4 linked regions of the Homo sapiens genome follow. The protein of the gene in region 1 binds, or shares a complex with, the protein of each later gene. Links are inferred from orthologs where the notes say so. Each region holds a gene or a part of one and is shown in the gene's direction. Other genes may lie near its edges. The genes, in order: ORC2, ORC4, LRWD1 and ORC3.

Region 1 (7,034 bases):
TTTAATGAGTTGACCTCAGTTTACTCATTTGTAAGTTGGGGACATTATATATATAAAGAGAGAGATGCAAAATACCTAAGTCAGAGAATCTGAGGATTTAATGAGCTGGTGTACATAAATGTGCCTAATACAGTGCCTCACAAACAGCCCCTTAAAAAACCTGTTGCTTTATTTTATACAAATATTACATAAATGGGTTAAACTTTTTCTCTAATACACCCAGTTTCCCCATAATAGGAAACAGTATTATGACTAGAAAAATGGCCCAAGAGGACATGTTTTACAAGCAATGGTCATAAGTTATAGATGAAGTATTTATTATCTTTATTTTTTATTTTTATTTTTAAAATTTTTCCTTCATATCACAGCCAAGTCCACAATTTTTTGTTGTCGTTGTTGTTTAAAAAAATTTTTTTGACCTGGTGTGGTGGCTCACTCCTGTAATCCCAGCAGTTTGGGAGGTAGAGGTGGGTAGATCGCTTGAGCCCAAAGGTTTGAGACAAGCCTAGGCAACATGGTGAAACCTCATTTCTACAAAAAATACAAAAGTTAGCTGGACGTGGTGGCAGAAGCTAGTAGTCCCAGCTGTATGGGAGGCTGAGGTGGGCAGATCACCTGAGCCCAGGAGGTTGGAGCTGTGGTGAGCCAAGATCATACCACTGCTCTAGGTGACAGAGCCCAGACCCTGTCTCAAAAAAAAAGAAAAAAAAATTAGAGACAGAGTCTCACTCTGTTGCCCAATCCGAGTAGACTATAGGCACATGCCACTACGCCCAGCTAATTTTTTTTTTTTTTGGTAGAGGCAGGCCTTACTGTTGCCAGGCTTGTCTTCAACTCCTGGCCTCAAGGGATCCCCCTGCCTCAGCCTCCCAAAGCACTGAGATTATAGGCATGAGCCACTGCACCCAGCCCACTATTTATTATCTTTATACACAAAGTATGAACCTCATAGAGTTGTGCAGATTAAATGAGAATACATATGGAGTACTCAAAACTGTCTAGCACAATGTAAGTGCTCAAATTTTGTCCTCCTCTCTTCCCACTCCATCCAGATGTTCTCAGTATCTAGGGCTTCCTAGCCAAATCAGTAATGGTCTTTTTGTCCTTTACTATACCATTACAACAGCTTTGGCTTTGTAAGGTCTACATGTATCTATTCATCATGCTTGTTAAAACTTGTGGAACTTGTTTTTGCCCCATTGCTTTCATTTTTCTGCTAGCTGACCCTGACTGAGTTATTTTTCCAATTACAGGTGACTGTATCTGAATTTTGCAGCTGCAGAATGTGTAGTACCTTAAAAGGTAAATGAAAACTGAAAGAAGTCATTTAAGCATGTTGCTTGTCAAAATAAAACTTGGTAACATTGAATTAGTTTTCTTCCTGCAGTTAATGAACTCAGAAGAGATAAATGACTGTGGTGGTGGCCCATGCCTGTAAATCCCAGAGGTTTGGGAGGGTGAGGTGGGAAAATTGCTTAATTCCAGGAGCTCAGAACCAGCCTGGGCAACATAGTGAGGCTCCATCTCTACAAAAAAAGGAAAACCTGCCAAGCATGGTGGCATGTGCCTGTAATCCCAACTACTTCAGAGGTTGAGATGGGAGGATTGCTTGAGCCCAGGTGGTTGAGGCTGCAGCAACACAGTGAGACCCTGTCTCAATAAAAAAAGAAAGAAAAGAGAGACACAGTCAATAGTTTCTCCTGCCAAAAGAAAAGGTGAAAACAAGATTGTAAGAAAGAGAGAAGAGAAAAGAAATCACCAAGAACACTGAATCTTAGTTTACATTTTTTGGGTAAACTGATTAGCTGGCAGCAGTTAAAATCATCATTAGTTATTTTCAGGCCAGTAGCATAGTAAGTTCTGAAAGTTCATTTTGTGAGACTAGCCAGAGTTGATCAAACTTTTGCTTGCCAAACTCTGGAGGTTTGTTCAGTGAGGAACTGAGTGTAAAGTGTTCGAAAGATTTGTGTTTACTGTTTAGTTACCAAGATATCTAGAAAGCCATATTCATATTTGTAAAGTTGTTTGGTAAGCATTCCATAAAAGTAAAGGGAGGTGCTTGAGGGTTTTTTGATCCAGGCTTAGGACACAAGTGAAGTTTAACAGACTCCCCACAATTGACTGTAGCTTTCTAGTGAACAGATAATAAAATCCATTAAAGCATTATTCTTTGTTTGGCTGTCACTTTTCTAAACACTCATGTATTAACCACCCCCTTTCTGTTAATGTGCTTATCTGGATTGGTTAGAGCTTTCATTAAAACTTAAAATTGTTTTTCTGAGAATATTTTATTTTATTTTTCTGAGTATATTTTAGCTACCTTGATTGGATTTAGCTCTTCTCAAATCTCAGAATCTCTTTGCCTCCCCAATTTTTTAGATAAAGAATTGAGTTACCTACAGTTGAATATGTAGTAATACAGTAATGCATAATGTATTTTTTATACTTAAAAAGACTTTAAAAATATTAGATAAAGACATGTATTCATTATGTGAATGTTTAATTTGGTGGTTGATATGAATTCTTCATCACTTTTGAGTAACTTACTGTTTTTGTTTAGGTTGGCAACAATGAGTAAACCAGAATTAAAGGAAGACAAGATGCTGGAGGTTCACTTTGTGGGAGATGATGATGTTCTTAATCACATTCTAGATAGAGAAGGAGGTATTAAGTGATTGTACAATTTGAAGAGATGCTTATTATAATGTTTATGGATTATTTCACTTTTAAAACTTTTAACATTTTCTTTTGAAAATATAGCGCAAAGGATTGATCTGGTTAGTAAAACTAAATAAAAACTGCTTTAATTTTTAGTTTAATTCTTTCAAACTTTAATTGAAAATGTTCAGTAAAGCCTAATATAAAACAAAATGCCCAGGAGTGGTAGTCACTAATAACTACCCATTGTAATTTAAAATATGTGGTTATTTTGAACCCTAAAAATATATACTTTCAAGATTGTGTGTGTTTTTTTTTTTAACTATATAAACTGTGGAAGAGTGGTCAGAGTGGTCAGTTTTAATCAAAGAGAAAGCTTTTTTCCCAGCTTTTAAGTAATGACAATATAAATATTATAATTTCTTATTTAAATGTAATGTTTAGAAAGAATTTATACCTGTCATGCTCTATTTCTTTGGATGTTCTTATAGGAGCTAAATTGAAGAAGGAGCGAGCGCAGCTTTTGGTCAACCCCAAAAAAATAATAAAGAAGCCAGAATATGATTTGGAGGAAGATGACCAGGAGGTCTTAAAAGATCAGAACTATGTGGAAATTATGGGAAGAGATGTTCAAGGTATTTGAGGGGGTGAAATATACACTCGTTTCTGCTAGTAGCAGAAATTGCTTTATAGGATACACAAAAGTAGTCTGGTAGGTTAAACAGTGGTGTTCTATATGATCATGTTTCTCATCTAAAAAGCATTTGCTTCAATTTCTCCATAGTTCTTTTTTTTAACAACCAGTCCTGCACATAGTTTTCAGTAAGAAGGAATCTATAGACCAACCACTCTAAAGTTATTTTATTTTTAAAATTTTTCCAGGATACATGTGTACAATGTGCAGGCTTGTTACATAGGTATACATGTGCCATGGTGGTTTGCTGCACCTTTCAACCCATCATCTAGGTTTTAAGCCCCACATGCATTAGCTGTCTGTCCTTATGCTCTCCCTCCCTCCACCCACCCGCAGGCTGTGGCATATGTTGTTCCCCTCCCTGTGTCCATGTGTTCTCATTTTTCAACTCCCACCTATGAGTGAGAATATGCAGTGTGTGGTTTTCTGTTCCTGTGTTAGTTTGCTGAGGATGATGACTTCTAGCTTCATACATGTCCCTGCAAAGGACATGATCTCATTCCTTTTATGGCTGCATAGTACTCCTAAAGTTATTTTCAAGATTATTTATTTATTTATTTATTTATTTTAGAGACAGGGTCTTGCTCAGTCACCCAGATTGGGATGCCATGGCACAATCATAGCTCATTGTAGCCTCCAACTTCTGGGTTCAGGAGATCCTCCCAACTTAGCCACCTGAGTAGCTAGTACTATTTTTAAGGTATTTATTTATGGCCAGACATGGTGGCTCACGCCTGTGATCCCAGTACATTGGGAGACTGAGGCAGGAGGACTGCTTGAGCCCAGGAGTTTGTAACCATCCTAGGCAACATAGTAAGATCCCGTTTCTACAAAAAAAAAAAGTTTTTAATTAGCTGGAAGCTGGGTGTGTGATGGCTCATGCCTGTAATCTCAGCATATTGGGAGACCAAAGCAGATTGATCGCTTGAGTCCAGGAGTTTGAGACTAGCCTGGCATGGTGGCACACACCTGTGGTCCCAGCTATGAGTGAGGCTGAGGTGGGAGGATCACTTGAGCCTGGGAGGTTGAGGCAGCAGTGAGCCGTGATCATACCACTACACTCCAGCCTGGGCAACAGAGTGAGACCCTGTCTCAAAAAAAAAATAAAACTAGCTGAGCATGGTGGCGTGTGCCTGTAGTCCTAGTTACTTGGGAGGCTAACGCAGAGGATTGCTTGAGCCCAGGAGGTTGAGGCTACAGTGAGCTGTGATTGCATCACTATACTCAGCCTGGGTGACAAAGCGAGACCCTAGGTCAAAACAGAACAAAAAAAAGATATTTATATTTTTAACTTATTTAAAATACCTTTCTAAAGCAAGTTACTTTATTCTTACCTTGATCTTTACAGAACTAGGAGGAGCATTTCAAGAAGTAGTGTTCTAACCCAGGGATGCTGGTATTATGTGTGTGGTTTTAATTTTTACATCTAAGCCAGATTCCTGCAAGATTATTCTTAACATAAAACATTTTTTTAGGTTCGAATTATATTTTAGTTAGGTTTTTCCTGGGTACAAGGAACACAGATCCCCACAACCTAGCTTAAAAAAATAATGACAAAGGAAAGAAATCAATATTGTTGGGTACTAGGAGAGTTGGAACTGGGACAGTGTTAAAAACTGAGGAACTGTGCTTTCATGAGTCTCCAGGTCTCCCTGTGTCATCTCTGTGCATCTGTTCTGATTTCTCTATGCCACATATTTTCTTCATGTACATGTGTTTTATTCTCACATACTTATAAATGTCCATCAAGTTCCCAGTGTTAAGTGATTTGGTTTTTCAGTTCTCCCATTCTAGATTCTCAAGAGTCAATTTAGCTCAATTCATTTTTAAAATCTGGACATAGAAATAGCATATAATTGGAATATCCACAGATGAATCACAGTTGAGTTATCTGTGCCTATTACTTATTATATTAATGAACATAATTACATAGTTCATTAACTATGGGGGTAGAGTCATATACTCCATGTATAGAGTTATACAAAAAATGACCACTGCTCCTCAATAGATTTAGTGGGCTGGGTAGGGTCTCCTATGTGTCCACAGCTAGACAGTTGACATTTTTTGAGCATATTCTAAATAAAACTTGGTGTTCTTGACTCCCTATTATGCCAGGCCTAAGAAGAGATTGATAACAGTATTCCACAAAGGAAACTTTTATCATAAAAATTGTCTCTTAAAAAAGTAGTATGTTTGTTGTAGAAATTCAGTGCTTCCAACCTTTCTCACATAACAGCACTCACAGCAAATGATATTTGGAGGCACAATGGAATAAATAGAAGAGGATGCTGCAGACCAAGGACAAATACCCCAGGGCCCTAACCCTACCCCTGCTACTGGCCTTGATTGGCATCCTCAAAGGCCTGAGAGAATCAGTACTCAGCACATATGAAACCCATACCATTTATTTATTTATTTATTTATTTATTTATTTATTCATTCATTCATTCATTCATTCCTCACACTGGGGAACTTTGCCTTATTTTTTGGCATCATGCCCTATGTTTTTCAACCTTTTTAAAATTATTGACCCCTAATTAGCCTTTTTAGACATTTTCTCCTAATCACTTTTTCCCACCCTAAAAATTTCAGTACTACATATATGCTGTATATCTGTTTATGTACTGTGACGCTTTGGAGGGCCACAGACTATTATATTAATAATGTCAAAGTCTTTTTTCCACACTCCCTCCTGTGCCAAGATCCAGTTTTACCCAATTGGGAGATGTATTGTACCTGTCAAGAATGCCTGCTTTAGAGAACGTGGAACCGTTAACATTTCAGTGTGTATCTTCTGTCTGTTCATACATGCATGGGCACACATAAGCTTGCACCATTACGTTTATAAATAGACTTTTTGCAATTAATAATGTATCATATATACATTACTCTGTCATTAGACATTCTTCTACAATAAGAGTTTTGACATGTATTGCCAAATATCCTCCTAAAGTTTATACAGATTACACTATTTAATCATAGTTACATTTTCCTAAAGACTTAGTTTTGGCCAGGTGCAGTGGCTCATGCCTGTAATCTCAGCACTTTGGGAGGCCAAGGCGGGTGGATCGCCTGAGGACGGGAATTCAAGACCAGCCTGGCCAACATGGCGAAACCGTGTCTCTACTAAAAATACAAAAAATTAGCTGGGCGTGGTGGTGGGTGCCTGTAATCTCAGCTACTCGGGAGGCTGAGGCAGGAAAATCGCTTGAACCCGGGAGATGGAGGTTGCAATGAGCCAAGGTCACACCATTGCACTTCAGCCTGGGCAACAAGAGTGAAAATCCATCTCAAAAAAAAAAAAAGAAAAAGAAAGAAAGAAATCCCAAATCCCATCTCTACAAAAAACATACAAAAATTAGCTGGGCGTGGTGGCATGCACCTGTAGTCCTAGCTGCTCAGAAGGCTGAAGTGGGAGGATCACTGGAGCCCAGGAGGTTGAGGCTGCAGTGAGCCACAATCACACCATTGCACACTAGCATGGGTGACAGAGCAAGAATTTATCTCATACACACACAAAAAAGCTTAGCATCTGAACCATTTTTAAAGTGTATGGGTTCAGTGGCATTAGGTACATTCACACCATTTGTAACCAATCTCCCAAACTTTTCTCATTGTACAAAACTGAAATTTATTCATCTGTAGATGGACACTTGGGTTGCTTCAACCTTTTGGGTATTGC
Region 2 (7,034 bases), about 53 Mb from region 1:
CTTAGTTTAATTTGAATAATTTTGTTCTTTAATTTGCATAATTCTGGTTACTTAATTTGCATAATTCTGATAGTGGTGATGCTTGTCATTTCATATTTTTATTGACCTTTGAAATTTCCTGGTTTATGTACAGTCATGTGCCACATAACAACCTTTAATTCAATGATAGACCACATATGTGACAGTGGTCCTATTAGATTATAAAACCATATTTTTACTGTACCTTTCCTGTGTTTAGATATGTTTAGATACACAAATACTTCGCATTGTGTTACAGTTGTCTACACTATCACATGCTCATAGGTTCATAGCCTAGGAGCAATAGGCTATGCCATATAGCCTAGGTGTCTAGTAGGCTATACCATCTAGGCTTGGGTAAGTACACTGTTAGGATGCTTGTACAACGATGCAGTCACCTAACAATACATTTCTCAGAACGTATCTCTGTCATTAAGGGACACACGACTGTATTTCCTGTTGGGTCTTTGACCTATTGTGGTAATGTTTATGTTATGCTTATTTATCGGAATTTTTGTGTTTTATTTTTCTCTTCCCTTAAGTTTGGTTTGGACTTTTCTGCTGATCTAAAGTTTTATGTTTTCCACATAGTTAAGTTTATCTAGAAAGTTTTTTCTCTCCTTCAGATTATAAAAACATTCATTGATCCATCTTTTTATTTAATATATATATATATTTGTAATTTATAATTTGTTTGGAATTTATTCTGATTTTACCTGTAAAGTAGGGATCTGACTTTGAATAGACTAATTTTCCCCACTGATGTATAATGCAATATTTTATCAAATACTAAAATTCTATATTAGTACATAAGTCTCTTTCTAGACTTTTGAGTAATCCCTTTGGTTTTGTACCAGTATTAAGTCATTTAGGCTACTGTATTTGTTATTTGTTGAAATAAGTCTTTCTTTTATCAGATATTTGTTTCACTTTTTAACACAAATATAAAGGCGTTAAGCCTAAGGTAAAAGGGATTCTTTTACTAAAGTTGTTTCCATTATTGAAGTGAGAAAAATGTAACCAGAGGGTGATGTGGAACTTTCCCCATGAAAAGCATTGTAGTTGAAATGCTAAAAGTTGTGCTTCAAGGGAGTTTAAGTGGCTTTAGTTGAACTTTATAATCTACAAGTTTGTTTATAAAAAGTATTTCTACAAGAAATGTACCTTGTATTTCTACTAAATAAACAACTCTCTTTTAAAGCATTAGTTTTGTTCATTAATTAGTGACTCCCCTTATATTTTAATCTTAAAGTGTTTTGGTTCTGTGTAGGTATAGAAAACTCTGTCAATTTTATAATCATTAAATAAGAATTATATTTACGTAATTATAAAAATAATAGTCTTTAGTCATTTAAATGATTTTTGACATTTTTCAACAACAAACTCTACTAGAGTCTAGGAACTAGACTGCACTTTTTATTTTTTGGAGATGGAGTTTCACTCTTGTTGCCCAGGCTAGAATACAATGGTGTGATCTCAGCTCACTGCAACCTCTGCCTCCGCAGTTCAAGAGATTCTCCTGCCTCAGCCTCCCAAGTAGCTAATTTTTTTTTTTTTTTTTAATAGCAGAGATGGGGTTTTACCATGTTGGCCAGGCTGGTCTCAAACCCCTGACCTTAGGTGATCCACCTACCTCGGCCTCCCAAAGTGCTGGGATTACAAGCGTGAGTCACCATGCCCGGCCTAGACTGAACTTTTTTTTTTTGAGATGGAGTTTCACTCTCGTTGCCCAGGCTGGAGTGCAGTGGCACGATCTTGGCTCACCACAACCTCTGCCTCCTGGGTTCAAGCAATTCTCCTGCCTCAGCCTCCCGAGTAGCTGGGATTACAGGCATGCGCCACCACACCTGACTAATTTTGTATTTTTAGTAGAGATGGGATTTCTCCATGTTTGTCAGGCTGGTCTCGAACTCCCGACCTCAGGTGATCCACCCACCTCAGCCTCCCAAAGTGCTGGGATTACAGGCATGAGCCACCACGCCCAGCCTAGACTGAACTTCTTGAGAGCAGTCGGGGCTGTGTTTGTCCTTTGAATAATTTTTTTCTGTTGAATGAACGTATATGCATCAGTAAATCCCCTACCCAAAGTAGGCTATCAGAATGTTTACAGAATTGAGTTTTAAAAACTGAAATATAGTAAATGGTTTGGAAATTTAGGAAAGGTGGATATAATTTCTTATTAATGTAATGCTCTTATTTTATCTTAGGTGACCGAACTAGCAGTTGCCCAGTGATCTTCATATTAGATGAATTTGATCTTTTTGCTCATCATAAAAACCAAACACTTCTCTATAATCTTTTTGACATTTCTCAGTCTGCACAGACCCCAATAGCAGTTATTGGTCTTACATGTAGATTGGTAAGTCTTTCTGTTCATTAAAAAAATTGATTATAATATTTTAAAATTCAAGCTTAATTGCTGACACTGCTAGTTTTTTTCACTTATTTAGGTCATTTTAAAAATTTTGTTTCAGCAGTGCCTGGTGTATTTATCCTGCTTTCAACTCAAATTGAGGAAAACAGTTTAGTAGTTACCTTAGCCCATTAATGAATACCTCCCTCCTCCCAGTGAAATTACTGAAGAAAAAAGTATGAAATCAGATTATGCTAATAAATATAATTTCTACATTATCAAGTAATGAGGCGGTTAAATCTCACCAATATTTGAGAAAACTTGGTAATAGTTTTTATTTTAAGATTTTTTTCCATATTTTGAAAAGGCTTGAAATCAACTCTAAGTAATACTATTCCAACTTTCAAAGTACACATCTCCAGAAATGGAAAAGATTCTACCAAGCACTGACAGTAGATAGTGGCTTCTTCATTCCATGGGATATTTTAGAATGATTTTAACTATAGTCTCAATATCACTATCACTTTGCCTTGTGAAGGCTCTGTACATATTGAACCATGTGTACCTTTGGACAGCAGTACAGGCCTTTTTGTGTTTACCTTCTTACACGCATGTAGTATTAACTTACTGAATTCAGATAAAACTGGTATTGAAGAGTGCCTTGGCCCATTTTGTGTTGCTATAACATAATACCTGAGACTTGGTAATTTTTAAAGAAAAGAAGTTTATTTATCTCACAGTTCTGCAGGCTGAAAAATTCAAGCGCATGGCACTGGCTTTGTTGCAAGGGTTTTCATGCTGCATGACATGGTGGAAGGTCAAATGGGGAACCGAAATGTGCAAAAACGAACCAGATAGGAGTTGGAACCTCAATTTATAACAACTCACTGTCTCAAGAACTAATCTATCCCCATGAGAACAAGAACTCACTCCAGTAAGAAGGCATTAAATCTATTTATGAGGGTCCACTCCAGTGACTTCCCACTGTTGCACTGGCAATTAAATTTCAACATGAGATTTGGTGGGGACAAACCATATCCAAACCATAGCAAAGTTGTCTCTTTTCTCATGCTATGACTGCCATGCCTCCATAGCTTTCTTGCAATCCTCTTCCCCCTCCATTCTCGGCAGATGTGTCAGGCACATTTACATGTTCACATCTCCTTTCCTACAACCCTTTTTCTTTTTCAGAAAAGTGAAACTTTTTTCTAATTCATATTTCAACAGTCCTCCTTCCAGTGCTGTTTCTCTATAGAGTGACTGTCATTTGCCCCTCCTTTCCTGTGCTCTAGAGCTTATGATACATGGCTTTAGTATAAACATCCCTCATACATCACTGGCTGGTGCTCCACATATCTTTATTCCTCCTTGCCAAAAGCAGCAGGCGATGACAAGGATCAAAGAAGCATCCTCCTTCTTGCCAAAAAAAAAAAAATCTTCCTTTGGGTGGAAGTGGCTGTGGTGAGTGTTGTTGACCCAATAACGGACCAAATAAAATGCCAGTAACTTCTTAGCAGTGTTATCAGATGTTCTTTTTTATTGTATATATATAATTCTCCAACTGTGTAGTTCTTTCAAGTGTAATTTTTTTTCTTTTTCTTTTTTTTTTTTTTTGAGATGGAGTCTTGCTCTGTCGCCCAGGCTGGAGTACAATGGCATAATCTCGGCTCACTGCAACCTCCACCTTCGGGGTTCAAGCAATTCTCCTGCCTTAGCCTCCCGAGTAGCTGGGATTACAGCCACACACCGCCATGCCTGGCTAATTTTTGTATGTTTAGTAGAGATGGGGTTTCACCATGTTGCCCAGGCTGCTCTCGAACTCCTGACCTCGTGATCTACCCCCCTTGGCCTCCCAAAGTGCTGGGATTACAGGCGTGAGCCACTGCGCCTGGCCTCAAGTATAATTTTATCTGTGTATCCACGTTTATAGGGAGAGAACAAAAGTATAGAGGGAGTAGTGACTTTGCCAGCAAGCATCTTCTTCCCCATTGGGAGTAATTCCATTTTTGTTTTTTGGTTTTGTTTTGTTTTTACTAGTTCCTGTATGCCCACATTGCCAACTTCTGTCATTACTGCCTACTACAAAGACAGTATTTACTTCCATCTCTTTTCATTCCCAAATTTAGGGTCTGAATTGTTGCTTGTATAGATTATTACTTCCACTGTCTACCTATATGGGTGACCTAGAACTCTTTCTTAATAGAAAATAAATGTACAATATCTGAATCTCTGAATATAACCTTTCTTGTCTTTTAGTTCTCATGCTGGCACTATACTTTTCTTTGACCTCATAAAAACATTCAAAATTTTTTATTCACCCTCCCACCTCCTACCTCAGGCTATTAGTCTTTCCTGTCCACCTTCCCAAACTAACCATGATCCCATTTTGATCACTTGAATTCTTTCCTCTATATCATGATTTCTTCACGTAGGTATTATGAGAGTCATCTGGCTAGATGTGGAGATGTATATTTCTGGGCTTAAACTACTCCCCTTTTAAAAATCTTTATAACATTTCAACAATATACATAGGAAAGAATAAATAATGAGCCCTGAATTCCCTTCTCCACTCATTGCCAAGATTCAATTACTACAGACTAATTTTATTTATCCTCAACATCTCCTTTCATTCCTGTATTATTTTGAGGCAAAAACTAGGTATTATATCATTTTATCAGTAAGTATTTTAGAATGTATTTTTAGGAGATAAGAGCTCTTTAAAAATATATTTCCCTAATATAATTGTTATATTAGCTGTAATTCCTTAAAGTCATCAAATATCATGTCACTGTTTTTAAAACAGCTTTATTGAGATGTAATTTATACCATACAACTCACTCATTTAAATTATACAATTAACAGGGTTTTTGTTTATTCATAGAGTTGTGCATTTATCACCACAGTTTAAGAGCCACGTACCTTTTAGTGATCACCCCAAATCCCCTGTTCCCTCCCCAGCCCTATGCAACCACTAATCTGCTAATCCACTTTCTGACTGTTTAGTAATTTTTGAATCATACAACGTATAGTTTTGTGTGACTGGCTTCTTTAACATGTTTTCAGAGTTGATCTGTGTTACAGCATATATCAGCCCTTTATTCCTTTTTATTACCAAATAATATTCTGTTGTGTAGATATACCACACTTTGTTTATCCATTCATCAGTTGATGGACATTTGGGTTGTTTATATTTCTTAAGCTATTAAAAATAATACTGCTGCAAACATTCACATACACTTTTTTTGTGGTTATCTGGTTTCATTTGTCTTGGTTGTATACCTTGGAGTGTAACTTAAGTAATAAATATATATTATACTATACTGTATATATATAGATGTATATATACATATATAATATAAATTATATATATTATATATAATATGCTGTGTACTATAATATATTTTGAAAAATTGCTCAAGTTCATTATTAAAAAGAGATTTAGGAATGACAGTTCCTGCAATATATGTGACTTAGGAAGACAGCTTACCTATTGTGCTTTTGATGTCTTGGATAGTTTGAATGCCTATCAGTTTTGTGGAAGTATTTTCTTCATTTAAGAACACTTCGTATGTCCTTACAAGCAGTACATATTAGTTATCCTTTGGTTTTTAGTGTTCTTTGACAGTAAATTTGATTCCTGATTTCTTTTTAAGGAAAAATAGCACAAATACAAATAGAGTCTAAAAGCATTACTATAAAAAAAAAAAAGCCGGAAGATAACTTACGAATGCCATGTTGCATTTCTGCCACTTTCCTCTCCTAAAGTTGGTTCCTGCTGCCTATCATGCTATTAATTTTTTAATCTCAGTTCTTCATAGAATGTACAGAATTCCTTATTGACACTCTTGGTGTTATTGTGACATATAGCTATTCAATATTGTCAGTTTTTTTAAACAGTCATGTTGGGTCTTGGAATGTTACAGATTAGCTGAGAGTAACATGGTGGGAAAAAGGCATGACATCACCAAGCCAGCAAATGCCTGGAGGTGGATTATTTAGTTTGCATAAAATGTTTTAAATGTTTAATTATGTATTGTAGACTAAACATTACTAATTATAGGTGATAGTTTACTTATACCTCTAACATTGGTACAGTGTTTTTGTTTTTTTAAAAACATTCATCTTCCTTATAGAGATTTCTGTTTGTTTTTAAGGATATTTTGGAACTCTTAGAAAAAAGAGTGAAGTCAAGATTTTCTCACCGGCAGATACACTTAATGAATTCATTTGGTTTTCCACAGTATGTTAAAATATTTAAAGAACAGTTATCTCTACCTGCAGAGTTTCCAGACAAGGTTTTTGCTGAGAAGTGGAATGAAAATGTTCAGGTATCTTAAAAGGCAATAAAGCTAAATGTTCCTTGCTATATGATTTAAAGCAATTAAAACACAAATTTTAGAAATTAGTAAATTAACACAAAGTTTCTAATATTGCTGAAGGATAATGCTGCAGTAATACAAATTATATACTTTTTAAAAATTTTCTTCTTAGACAGTTGAAATGTCATTTCTCCTAAATTCTATCTCAAAAGAACATCACAGTTAAGCTTTAGGATTTATGTTATTAGTTTGAAGTAAACTTTAATGAGGCTTTAGTTTTATCTGTATGTGGTTTATATTTTAGATAATTTTATTTTATATATTTTACATATTTAGCAATAATA
Region 3 (5,719 bases), on another chromosome or scaffold:
AGCCTGGGCCTCCTGCATCCGCAGTGAGGTGGGGTCCAGCCTGTGATGGGGAGGAAGGAAGCCCCAGGCAGACAGGCCCATGGTCACAAGGCCCCCTCCACAGGCCAGACTGGCGGCCTTGAAACGGCCAGACGACGTCCCACTCAGCCTCTCTCCCAGCAAGCGGGCGTGTGCCTCCCCGTCGGCCCAGGTGGAGGGCAGCCCTGTGGCAGGCTCCGATGGCAGCCAGGTGAGCTGAGGTGGCAAGGAGCAGGTGGCAGATGAGTCGGGGCTGGGCAGCTGTGACCCTTCTCTCCCCCCACAGCCTGCTGTGAAGCTGGAGCCCCTGCACTTCCTGCAGTGCCACAGCAAGAACAACAGCCCCCAGGACCTCGAGACCCAGCTGTGGGCCTGTGCCTTCGAGCCGGCCTGGGAGGAGGGTACATGGTGGCGGGCAGGCGGGGCAAGGGCCGCTGGAAATAGGGCCGCCTGGATGGGTGGGGGATCAGGAGACAGAGCTTAAAAGGCGCCATCAAGGCTGGGAGGAGGAGGCTGCAGGGAGGACCTAGATGGGAAATGTCTCTGCTCATCCGACCTCTCAAAACCGGGCACTCAGGGGCCACATCCCAGACCGTGGCCACGTGCGGCGGGGAGGCTGTGTGCGTAATTGATTGCCAGACGGGCATCGTGCTCCACAAGTACAAGGCACCCGGCGAGGTGAGTGCAAGGCCCTGTCCCTGCTGGGCAAGGGTGCCCGACTGACTCCTGAACAGCAGCATGGGGATGGATGCAGGCTCGGCCCCCTGCCCCATGGCCTTTTTCTTTCATGCTGGGGCTCCCTCCCCCAGGCCCGGGCTACCCGCGTGTTCACACCAATAGCTCTGCCCCAGTGACTGTTTACTCTAACCCCCGCCCAGGAGTTCTTTTCTGTGGCCTGGACCGCTCTGATGGTGGTCACACAGGCTGGCCACAAGAAGCGCTGGAGTGTGCTGGCGGCTGCAGGCCTACGGGGCCTGGTCCGGCTGCTGCACGTGCGTGCCGGCTTCTGCTGCGGGGTCATCCGAGCCCACAAGAAGGCCATCGCCACCCTGTGCTTCAGCCCCGCCCACGAGACCCATCTCTTCAGTAAGCCCCTCCCCTTCACCCCTGGGACCCCCAAGCACCCCTGTCCTGCTGCCCCAGTAGCCTCCACGCTCCCCTCCCTGGGATGGCTGTGAGCTCGGGCGCCTGCCGGGCCCCAGTCTGCACCGCTCCGACTCTAGCTTTGGCAGGAAGCCATGTCGCTTCAACCCTGGCTTTATCCACAGCCTGCTCTGTGGCCTCGGAGTTTTCCAACAGCCTGGGCCACTCTGTCCCCTGTCAGTGACCTGGGGGGATGCCCCTGCCCCCGGGTGTGGCGCCCCTGTCAAGGGGGATGGATGAGCCACAGGAAGTGGCCGCTGGAGCCACCGCATCAGGTTAGATGGAGGAAACAGGGATTGGGGGCCCAGGAGTGTTCCTGTCTCCTAGCCTCGGCCCGCCCTCCCCGCCTCGGAGGGGCTGGCCTTGGGACCGTGGGCTCAGCCTGGGATGCAGCCAGCAGGAGGGAGCAGGGTCATCTCAGGGCCACTTCTCCCCTACCCCACCCCCTCTTCAGCGGCCTCCTATGACAAGCGGATCATCCTCTGGGACATCGGGGTGCCCAACCAGGACTACGAATTCCAGGCCAGGTGATGCTTCGGGTGAGGCTGGGGAGTGGCCAGCTGCTGGGGCAGGGACACCTCGGTCTGGGTCTGATGCTCTGTTCCCCCTTGCCCACTGGCAGCCAGCTGCTCACACTGGACACCACCTCTATCCCCCTGCGCCTCTGCCCTGTCGCCTCCTGCCCGGACGCCCGCCTGCTGGCCGGCTGCGAGGGCGGCTGCTGCTGCTGGGACGTGCGGCTGGACCAGCCCCAAAAGAGGAGGTGAGGCTGGGCAGGGGGCGCCTTGGAAGCCAGGCCTCTGCAGAGGGTGGCTGTTGGCCCAGATGGGCTCACAGCAGCCTGGGCACACCCGGGTAACCATAAGGGTTGTTTTTAGAGGCCTCTTCGCAGAGCTGGCTTGTCCCACCTTTCTGCCAGGCTCTGGAGGAAAGGACTCTGACCCTGCTCTCACCCTGGGTTCAGCTGTGGGACTGGGCCATGATGACCTCCCCTTCACCTGGGGCTTCAGCACCATGCTGTGCCCACGTGATCCAGCCCACTCCTGCCACTCATCAGCAGTGTGATGGTCCTCTGTGCTGGCATAATGTCCTCATCTGTAAAGAGGGGCCGATGGCTAGCGGAGGGCAGGTGAGGTGGTGTCTGGGCAGGCAGGCTTTGGAAGTGCCACGTTGAGGCTTTCTGGCTCATCTGTCCCACCTGGAAGGCCTCTGAGACAGGGCTTGGCAAGGGGTCCCTGTCCTCTTGGGGCCCCCAGCCTACTGGGGAAGACAGATGCTCAGCAAAGGTGGCCAATCAAAATCCCACAGTGTGATGCCAGCTACGAAGGAGACGGAAAAAGAGTAACGGGCAGAGGGACACTAGCGTGGGGGCCTCAGGGGACTCTGCTGAGGTGACCAGCGGCAGATGGATATTCTGGGGCTCACGCTTTCCTCCCTGGGAGCCTGGTGAGGGAGTCAGCGGGCGGAGGGTGGGGAGGTGCTTGCATGGAGGAAATGGTACGTGCAAAGGTCAGTGGCAGGGGAGCCAGCTGGCCTGCTCCACCATGTGGCCACAGCTGGGTGGACCCAGCCCAGAACAAGGTGGCAAGGGTGCCTGGGCGGGGCACGCCGGGCTTCGTCAGCCACGGTAAGCTTTGCATTTCTATTTATTTACTTTTTATTTGAGATAGAGTCTCCCTCTTGTCACCCAGGCTGGAGTACAGTGGCTCGATCTCGGCTCACTGCAACCTCTGCCGCCAGGTTCCAAGTGATCCTCCTGCCTCAGCCTCCCGAGTAGCTGGGATTACAGGCGCACGCCACCATGCCCGGCTAATTTTCTTTTCTTTGAGATGGAGTTTCACTCTTGTTGCCCAGGCTGGAGTGCAATGACACGATCTCGGCTCACTGCAATTTCCACCCCCCCACCGGGTTCAAGCAATTCTTCTGCCTCAGCCTCCCAAGTAGCTGGAATTACAGGTGCACGCCAACACGCCTGGCTTATTTTTGTATTTTAATAGAGATGGGGTTTCACCATGTTGGCCAGGCTGGTCTCGAACTCCTGACCTCAGGTGATCCACCCGCCTCAGCCTCCCAAAGTGCCAGGATTACAGATGTGAGCCATTGCACCCAGCTGACTTTTGTCTTTTTAATAGAGACGGGGTTTCACCGTGTTGGCCAGGCTGGTCTCGAGCTCCTGACTTCAGGTGATCCACCCACCTCAGCCTCCCAAAGTGCTGGGATTACAGGTGTGAGCCACTGCCCTGGGCCAAGATTTGGATTTTTAGCTTACCTACAACAAACAGCCCAGGAGGAGCTTCGACACAGCAGCTGCTGTGTTGAAAGGAGCAGCAGGGGCCTTGGCGGCAGAGGTGGTGGCGGCGGTAGTTATGGGCTTCTCTTTCTCACCAGCAGCCCCTGGGCCGCCGCCTCCCTCCCTGCCCGTATGTCTGGTCCCTGTGTCTAAGATGCTTCTTCTCTTACCCTCTGCCCAACTGGCTCAGGCCTGGCCCATGGTTAGCTGCTGGGCCACTCTCCTGGCTCCAGGCTAGCCTCCGAGAGTCAGGTAGCTGCCGGGACACTTCTCCAAGCAGACACTCCCACACACTCTCAGCTCTGAACCATGCAGCAGCCATTCCCTCATTCCCCCATTCCCCCGTCTTTTGAGTCAGAGCAGATGCCCCCAACAGCCCCCTGGGCCATGGCCCCCCATTCCCCCGTCTTTTGAGTCAGAGCAGATGCCCCCAACAGCCCCCTGGGCCATGGCCTGGAAACACCTGCTCTACTTGGCTGCCAGGAGGCCCCTGTTCATCTCACACTCGGTCCCAGAGGCACTGGCTCGCTTCAGAGCCTTATCCAACCCCCTGGCCTAGCCCCGTCCTGGAAGAGCCACCCCTCGTGCCTCTGGGTCACTACTGTGACTCGGGACACTCAGGTGCTGGCTCCCCCTTCCAGGGCAAACTGAACCTTCCTGGGGCCAAGAATGTATCTCTTTGGTGGCATCTTCTGTGCAGCCTTCACACAGGGCAGGGTCCCCAGCAGGTGCGCTGCAGATGCCTGGGTGAGTGGGCAGCTCTCTATCTGCAAGGAATGGCCAACTAGCATCTCGTGCTGCCCCACAGGGTGTGTGAAGTGGAATTCGTCTTCTCTGAGGGCTCCGAGGCATCTGGACGGAGAGTGGATGGGCTGGCATTTGTGAATGAGGACATCGTGGGTGAGTGAGCTCAGCTTGTGGGACAGCCTGGCCTCCGGGCACACAGATGGACCGCTTGTCCCTGGGCTAGGCTTCTGAGGATCTCTAGTGGGAGAAGGTGTCTGGGAGGGGCCACCCTGCACAGCTCTCCCTTCTCCCCCACAGCCTCCAAGGGGAGCGGCCTGGGCACCATCTGCCTGTGGAGCTGGAGGCAGACGTGGGGGGGCCGGGGCAGCCAGTCCACGGTGGCAGTGGTGGTCCTGGCGCGGCTGCAATGGTCGTCCACCGAGTTGGCCTACTTCTCGCTCAGCGCCTGCCCTGGTGAGCCTGCCCCCCTGCCCGCCCCATCCCGCGGGCTTCCGGGAGCTCTGCCCCCACTCAGACTCCACCTCTGTCCCGGCAGATAAGGGGATTGTGCTCTGTGGGGATGAGGAGGGCAACGTGTGGCTCTACGACGTCAGCAACATCCTGAAGCAGCCACCCCTGCTGCCGGCAGCCCTGCAGGCCCCCACACAGGTACTGCCCGGCTCACCCTGCCCAGGCTTGGGCTGGCAAGGCATCAGGGGCCCTGCCTTTGGTCAGCAGGAGCCCAGCCCAGCCCTCCCCTCTCTCCCCACCAGATCCTGAAGTGGCCCCAGCCCTGGGCCCTTGGCCAGGTGGTGACCAAGACCATGGTGAACACAGTGGTGGCCAATGCCTCCTTCACCTACCTCACCGCCCTGACGGACTCCAACATCGTAGCCATCTGGGGGAGGATGTAGCCTCACACCATCGCAAAGGACCAGGGACACAGCTAACTAACTTATTCAGCTTTGGGCCGATGGGGGTGGGGGGGGGTCTTTCAGTGAATATTTTTATTAAACTCTACTGTGGACAAGAAGCCTGTGGAAAGGTGTTTCGAGTTATGCAGGAAGAAGTGTTCCTGCTTTGACTGACAGGCAGGCCCAGGAGTTGAGGCTTCTAGAGCAGAGACTCTTGGGAGCTCATGGGTTTGCACACTTCTCTCCGGCTCAGCACAGCCCCCGCAGCAGCCCCTGGACCCCGGATCTTTGGTCCAGAATGAATTCATCCCTGCCAGCCGGACGCCCCTGAAACAGGTCATCTGCCTGCATCAAGCCTGACAATCCATTTGCTTGCGAAGTCACCGCTGCTCAAGTCCACATCCAGGTCTCTCCCGCTATACTTTATTAGGAATATAAAACCTAATCTATGTACAGGACACGTCGGTGTCAGGGTGAGGGGTGGCCACAAGGCGGGCCATGGCTGGGACCGGCCGCTCTCCTCGGTGTGGTACCTGGAGCGGAGGGTCAGGCACAGGTAGGAACGGGGCTCACAGGCCGAGCAGAGCCCCCTCTGGCCCCTACTCAATTCCTTCCTGCTTGTCTTTTA
Region 4 (4,851 bases), on another chromosome or scaffold:
ACTATTATCTCAAGGTAAGATGAACATTTAGTTTTCTGATAGTTTAGCTCAGACTCTGGGCGTCATTGTCATAAAAATATACTAAATTTGCAGTTATGTTTTAATGAGCAGAGAGTCGGCAATTCAGGGTTGCACGTCTCATATATTTTTAAAAATTCTTTAGACTGTAGAAAAAAATTTCTAACCCCATAAAGATAGCAATTAGTAGTCAACTGTTGCTGCCAGTTTTTGACCATGTGTAATCTTTGCCCTTCACATGCTAAAGTCAGATCATAGGCACAAAGACTTGAGAGTATAATGTTACCACTCTTGTGAAAATAAAAGAAATGTTTCCTGTAAACATAACAGCAGACAGGGATTAAACAATATGGCCTAATAAATTACTGAAAGACCGAAATGGTTGTTTCTAGTGGGAAAGAGAAATACTTTGGGACTTCATCTTGGATTTTAAAACAAAGAAAGGTCTATTCTGAGAGCATCTGCAGAGCTGAGTGTAGAGGATAACCAGCAGTCTGCCACTAAAACTCCTGGGGCAGCACACTTCAGCTGCCCTTGCTAAAGTCCAGACACAGTTATCAACTCCTGGAAGCTCTTTAAACAATAGTTCAAGACAGCTCACAATTTTAGAAACTAGCTTTCTTATGACCGGGCAAAATGATCACTTTAAACATTCAATAAGCTGTATATACATGAAAGAGTGGTAAGTTAAATACCCAGAAATCTTGCCACAATAAATACTTAAGAAACAACTCCGTAAGACCTATGAAGAGCATTCCAGTGTACTGGCTTCTCATTGCAAAACGGCACACAAACATGCAGAGTATTACAAGAATATTGAGTAGGACGATATAAGTCAATGGTTTTCAGTGATGGTGAAAACCACTGAATAATTTCATACTTAACCAAAAAATCAGTTAATTTTAATATATAAACCATAAATTAAAACTTACAAAATCTGTCTTCTTCTTGGCTGGTGGGTCACAGAAGAGAACTGGTATGATTTCAGTTGTCTTTGGGTGGGATATATTATAATATACCCCTGATATTATAATATCAGAGCAGGGTGTGTATGTAAGACTTTGTGTTTCTCAGTAAAAGCCATGGATTTCAAATAGGTTGAAGAAACACTGATGGTTTCTATAGGGCTTAAGGTCTGCAGTGTTGACAACGTAGTCTTTTCTTTAAAAGAAATTTATACCCCTGGTAAGTGGTATTAGTATTTACTAATACAGTATAGTAATTGTTAGAATTCAGCTAATTATAAGTGTTGGAAGTACCATTTTATTAAGTATTCCTAAAGATTTCCATAAACTTTTTACATTAAGTGCATTCAGGTCTGAGAAATTAGTAATTTATGGATTGAAATGAAAAATATGCTTATCTTCTAATCCTGGGAATATTCTTCTAGTGACTAAGAACTAGAGGGGTTATGACCAAGACATAAACCTAAACAAGAACTAGCTAACTATTGAATAGACTCACTCACTAAATAAGGGAAACCAAGATTCCATTTACTGGTTTACTCAGTTTAGGTTGGGGGCTTCATTAATGTCTGATTTTATTCCTAATAATTTATAAAAGTTAGTCATCTTAGTTTACTGTTAATTGTTAGAATGAAGCACTGAAAAGCGAAGAAGGCTGCATTCCGAATATCGCCCCAGACATCTGCATAGCATACAAACTGCACCTAGAGTGTAGCAGGCTCATCAACCTCGTGGACTGGTCAGAGGTAGGTTGTAGGGAAAAGAACAAGCTAGATATTTTTCTAACCATCCATGATGACTTTCTCAGAATAGTTTTATACTTTTAGTGCTTTGGAATTTATCTTGTGTTTAATGCCTTGTCTTTTATTTGGAAAGCATAAATCATTTCAAACTTTAAAAGTTCCTTAGGAAGTGGTAGTTCAACAGTCCCCACTCCCAATCCCCTGCCCTCTGATCCTGAATTCCTTAACCAAGCCAATTCTGTGTTCATGCTAGGTCAAAATAAGTATGTGATCTAACCCAATAGTTAGCATTAAGCAAAAACTAAACAATTTAGGTCAGTTCTGTTATTTCACAAAATAAAGTATATTATTAACTAGCATTTCTCTTCTTGCTTAAAAGAAAAAAAATTGAAGTAACTACACAACAGATTTAGCAATCAGGAAGTATAAGGAATACTTGGCAAGGCAATAAACAACTGTTGTTATTCTTTAAAATAAACAACTATTCTTTCTGTCTTCAGAATAGTATTACAAAGATCTTAACTCTATTAAAGGCCTTACAGATGTCTTGTCACCATTAAAAAATATCCATAATTGGCTGCTTCCAAGAAAAATAGATATTTTCCTGGAGTAAGATTAGTAGAGGAAACAGGGCTTTCTTGTTCTTTTACCTTTGACTAGCTTCGTTTCTTTTCTCTGCATACTCTTAGTTCTCTGAAACAAGATTATTCAGGAACCATTACTTTATCTTTTAATATATAAGTGGTTTAAAGTGATCATCAGTGTAGTTTTGACAATCTTAAATTTGATATAATGAAGAATATGTGCCAGCTATCAACAGCCATTAAAAGAAGTATAGTAAAAGATGTTTGGCAACTGTAGACATTTTTATTTTCTTCTGTCTTGTCTATTCAAAAGGCTTTTGCAACAGTTGTGACAGCTGCTGAAAAAATGGATGCAAATTCTGCAACCTCAGAAGAAATGAATGAAATTATCCAGTATCCTTTTAAAACCATTTCTACAATGTCCAACTACACATAAAATATAAGTTTATAATTTCTCCAGGTCTACACTAGATATTTATAAAGGCGTACTCCAAACAACCGTATTACTTGTTAATATTAACCATATGGTGCTAGAATAACTGAAATTTCTGAATCTTTATTTTGAATTTAATCCAAAATGAGACCAAACCTAAAACTTTTGGTATCAAATTTATATCAAGATTATATTTTAAAATTTACCAAAAATGAAACTGCCATTATTGAATTCTCTTTTTTTGGTTTTTGTTTTTTTTGTTTGTTTGTTTGTTTTTGAGACGGAGTCTCGTCTATCGCCCAAGCTGGAGTGCAGTAGTGCGATCTTGGCTGACTGCAACGTCCGCCTCCTGGGTTCAAGCAATTCTCCTGCCTCAGCCTCCCAAGTAGCTGGGATTACAGGTGCCTGCCACCAAGCCCAGCTAATTTTTGTATTTTTAGTAGAGACGGGGTTTCACCATGTTGGCCAGGCTGGTCTCGAACTCCTGACCTTGTGATCCGCCCGCCTTGGCCTCCCAAAGTGCTAGGATTATAGGTGTGAGCCACCTCACCCGGCCTAATTCTTTTTTTTTTTTTTTTTTTTGAGACAGAGTTTTGCTATTGTTGCCCAAGCTGGAGTGCAGTGGCACGATCTCGGCTCACCGCAACCTCCACCTCCCGGGTTCAAGCGATTCTCCTGCCTCAGCTTCCCAAATAGCTGGGATTACAGGCGCCTGCCACCATGCCTGGCTAATTTTTGTATTTTTAGGGGAGATGGGATTTCACCATGTTGGCCAGGCTGGTCTTGAACTCCTGACCTTAGGTGATCTGCCTGCCTCGGCCTCCCAAAGTGCTGGGATTACAGGTGTGAGCCACTGACCTGGTCTGAATTCTCTATTTTTCTAATGTACGTTTAGAAGTGGGGGCGGGGAGCAATTTCCATACTATGTAGAACATTAGATTTAGGAAGCATTAAGTACTTTTCCATTTATGTTTTATTGATAGTGGATTCTAATTAATGTTTTCCAGTAACAGTTATAGTTTAATTTAGGAGTTTATATCTGAACTATCTACTTCATTTTACCAACTAGTATTTTAACATTGAGATTTTAATCCCTTTTTGTCAAAAATACAGCACGGCCAGTTTCCTTAATTAAAGCCTCCAGTGCTCGGTTTATTAGAGCTGTTTCTGAACTAGAACTTTTAGGATTTATAAAACCTACCAAACAGAAGACTGACCATGTGGCAAGACTAACATGGGGAGGCTGCTAGAAAGCAAATAAGCAAAGCCAGAACTATCACATTTAGCTTAAGAGAAAAAGGTGACCAGTCATATTTACATATATTAGAGGAGCCTGTTTTGTTGAGAAGATAAATGTGTAACCCCCATTGATGTTTAACCAGAAAAGTACATTGCTAACCCCAAACAGGCATGTATCAAAACACCTGTGGAGTACTTTAGACTCCAACAAATAATAATGTAACTAAAACTGCTCACACATTTTACTGTACTTTCCAAAGTCATTACTAAATTGTGAGTAAATCATTCTTGAACTTAGAGTATGTAAATGTAATAAATTCCGTTATCCAGGAGTATAAATTATTTGCAGTTGCTTTAGCAATCCTCATTCCTCCTCTCCCAATTCCCTGCATTGGCATTCCTCACTTTAGTGTAGTAGGCAGTAAGTAACATGAATATCTTACAGGTTGTTTCTCCTGGTGACTACATAGGTTCCAAAACTGTCTCTGCCTCTCCATTTCCTGTAGTCTTACAACTTTAAAGAAAAAAAAAAAAGGCCAGGCGTGGTGGCTCACACCTGTAATCCCAGCACTTTGAGAGGCCAAGGCGGGTGGATCACAAGGGCAGGAGATCGAGACCATCCTGGCCAACAAGGTGAAACCCCATCTCTCCTAAGAAATACAAAAAATTAGCCAGGTGTGGTGGCACATGCCTGTAGTCCCAGCTACTCGGGAGCCTGAGGCAGGGGAATTGCTCGAACCCGGGAGGCGGAGGTTGCAGTGAACTGAGATCGGCCACTGCACTCCAGCCTGGGTGACAGAGTGAGACTCCGTGTCAAAAAAAAAAGTCCCAAACTGTTTGGCTTTATTTAGGCAGTAAATATTCTACTT

Evidence for each region.
Region 2: the proteins of ORC2 (region 1) and ORC4 are in contact, whole or in part, in a cryo-EM structure (PDB 7JPP), measured with the Homo sapiens proteins. Residues at the interface, in NP_006181.1 of Homo sapiens: Asp501, Asp504, Tyr508, Ser512, Gln518, Glu522, Val554; in NP_001177808.1 of Homo sapiens: Lys168, Asn169, Arg195, Glu200, Leu201, Lys204, Arg205.
Region 3: the proteins of ORC2 (region 1) and LRWD1 are in contact, whole or in part, in a crystal structure (PDB 8SIU), measured with the Rattus norvegicus proteins. The link is inferred for Homo sapiens from one-to-one orthologs. Residues at the interface, in NP_001012003.1 of Rattus norvegicus: Val11, Pro12, Ser13, Val14, Gln15, Phe16, Val17, Gly18, Asp19, Val22, Leu23, Ser24, His25, Ile26, Leu27, Asp28; in XP_038945348.1 of Rattus norvegicus: Pro262, Leu263, His264, Phe265, Leu266, Gln267, Cys268, Ser270, Asn273, Ser274, Pro275, Leu320, Val321, Leu322, His323, Lys324, Tyr325, Lys326, Leu367, Val369, Gly372, Phe373, Cys374, Pro596, Pro598, Val599, Ala600, Val605, Ile630.
Region 4: the proteins of ORC2 (region 1) and ORC3 are in contact, whole or in part, in a cryo-EM structure (PDB 7JPO), measured with the Homo sapiens proteins. Residues at the interface, in NP_006181.1 of Homo sapiens: Leu239, Glu242, Tyr243, Ala246, His247, Asp268, Arg273, Leu276, Val279, Ser280, Phe283, Glu286, Leu287, Leu290, Lys296, Leu297, His299, Lys300, Met302, Leu303, Gln304, His306, Leu307, Phe309, Tyr314, Gly315, Leu316, Arg320, Glu324, Arg327; in NP_036513.2 of Homo sapiens: Thr3, Ser4, Ser5, Met6, Ser7, Lys8, Gly9, Cys10, Phe11, Val12, Phe13, Lys14, Pro15, Arg20, Ile22, Ile26, Tyr29, Phe30, Lys32, Tyr47, Val111, Thr112, Lys139, Asp318, Lys326, Gln329, Leu330, Leu333, Tyr337, Glu589.

Annotation. Positions count from the first base shown.
Region 1 is NC_000002.12:200,953,660-200,960,693, reverse strand, and holds part of ORC2 (origin recognition complex subunit 2), read left to right. Parts: intron 1-1,253; 5' UTR 1,254-1,302; intron 1,303-2,560; 5' UTR 2,561-2,570; coding exon 2,571-2,664; intron 2,665-3,149; coding exon 3,150-3,293; intron 3,294-7,034. UniProt on the Homo sapiens protein: Component of the origin recognition complex (ORC) that binds origins of replication. DNA-binding is ATP-dependent. The specific DNA sequences that define origins of replication have not been identified yet.
Region 2 is NC_000002.12:147,947,716-147,954,749, reverse strand, and holds part of ORC4 (origin recognition complex subunit 4), read left to right. Parts: intron 1-2,225; coding exon 2,226-2,377; intron 2,378-6,525; coding exon 6,526-6,699; intron 6,700-7,034. UniProt on the Homo sapiens protein: Component of the origin recognition complex (ORC) that binds origins of replication. DNA-binding is ATP-dependent. The specific DNA sequences that define origins of replication have not been identified yet.
Region 3 is NC_000007.14:102,467,959-102,473,677, forward strand, and holds the end of LRWD1 (leucine-rich repeat and WD repeat-containing protein 1), read left to right. Parts: intron 1-103; coding exon 104-229; intron 230-304; coding exon 305-419; intron 420-595; coding exon 596-696; intron 697-896; coding exon 897-1,104; intron 1,105-1,615; coding exon 1,616-1,688; intron 1,689-1,783; coding exon 1,784-1,924; intron 1,925-3,510; exon of another isoform or gene 3,511-3,573; intron 3,574-4,259; coding exon 4,260-4,351; intron 4,352-4,495; coding exon 4,496-4,651; intron 4,652-4,733; coding exon 4,734-4,846; intron 4,847-4,950; coding exon 4,951-5,091; 3' UTR 5,092-5,210; downstream 5,211-5,719. UniProt on the Homo sapiens protein: Required for G1/S transition. Recruits and stabilizes the origin recognition complex (ORC) onto chromatin during G1 to establish pre-replication complex (preRC) and to heterochromatic sites in post-replicated cells.
Region 4 is NC_000006.12:87,663,131-87,667,981, forward strand, and holds the end of ORC3 (origin recognition complex subunit 3), read left to right. Parts: coding exon 1-14; intron 15-1,612; coding exon 1,613-1,729; intron 1,730-2,623; coding exon 2,624-2,703; intron 2,704-3,880; coding exon of another isoform or gene 3,881-3,887; coding exon 3,888-3,993; 3' UTR 3,994-4,321; downstream 4,322-4,851. UniProt on the Homo sapiens protein: Component of the origin recognition complex (ORC) that binds origins of replication. DNA-binding is ATP-dependent. The specific DNA sequences that define origins of replication have not been identified yet.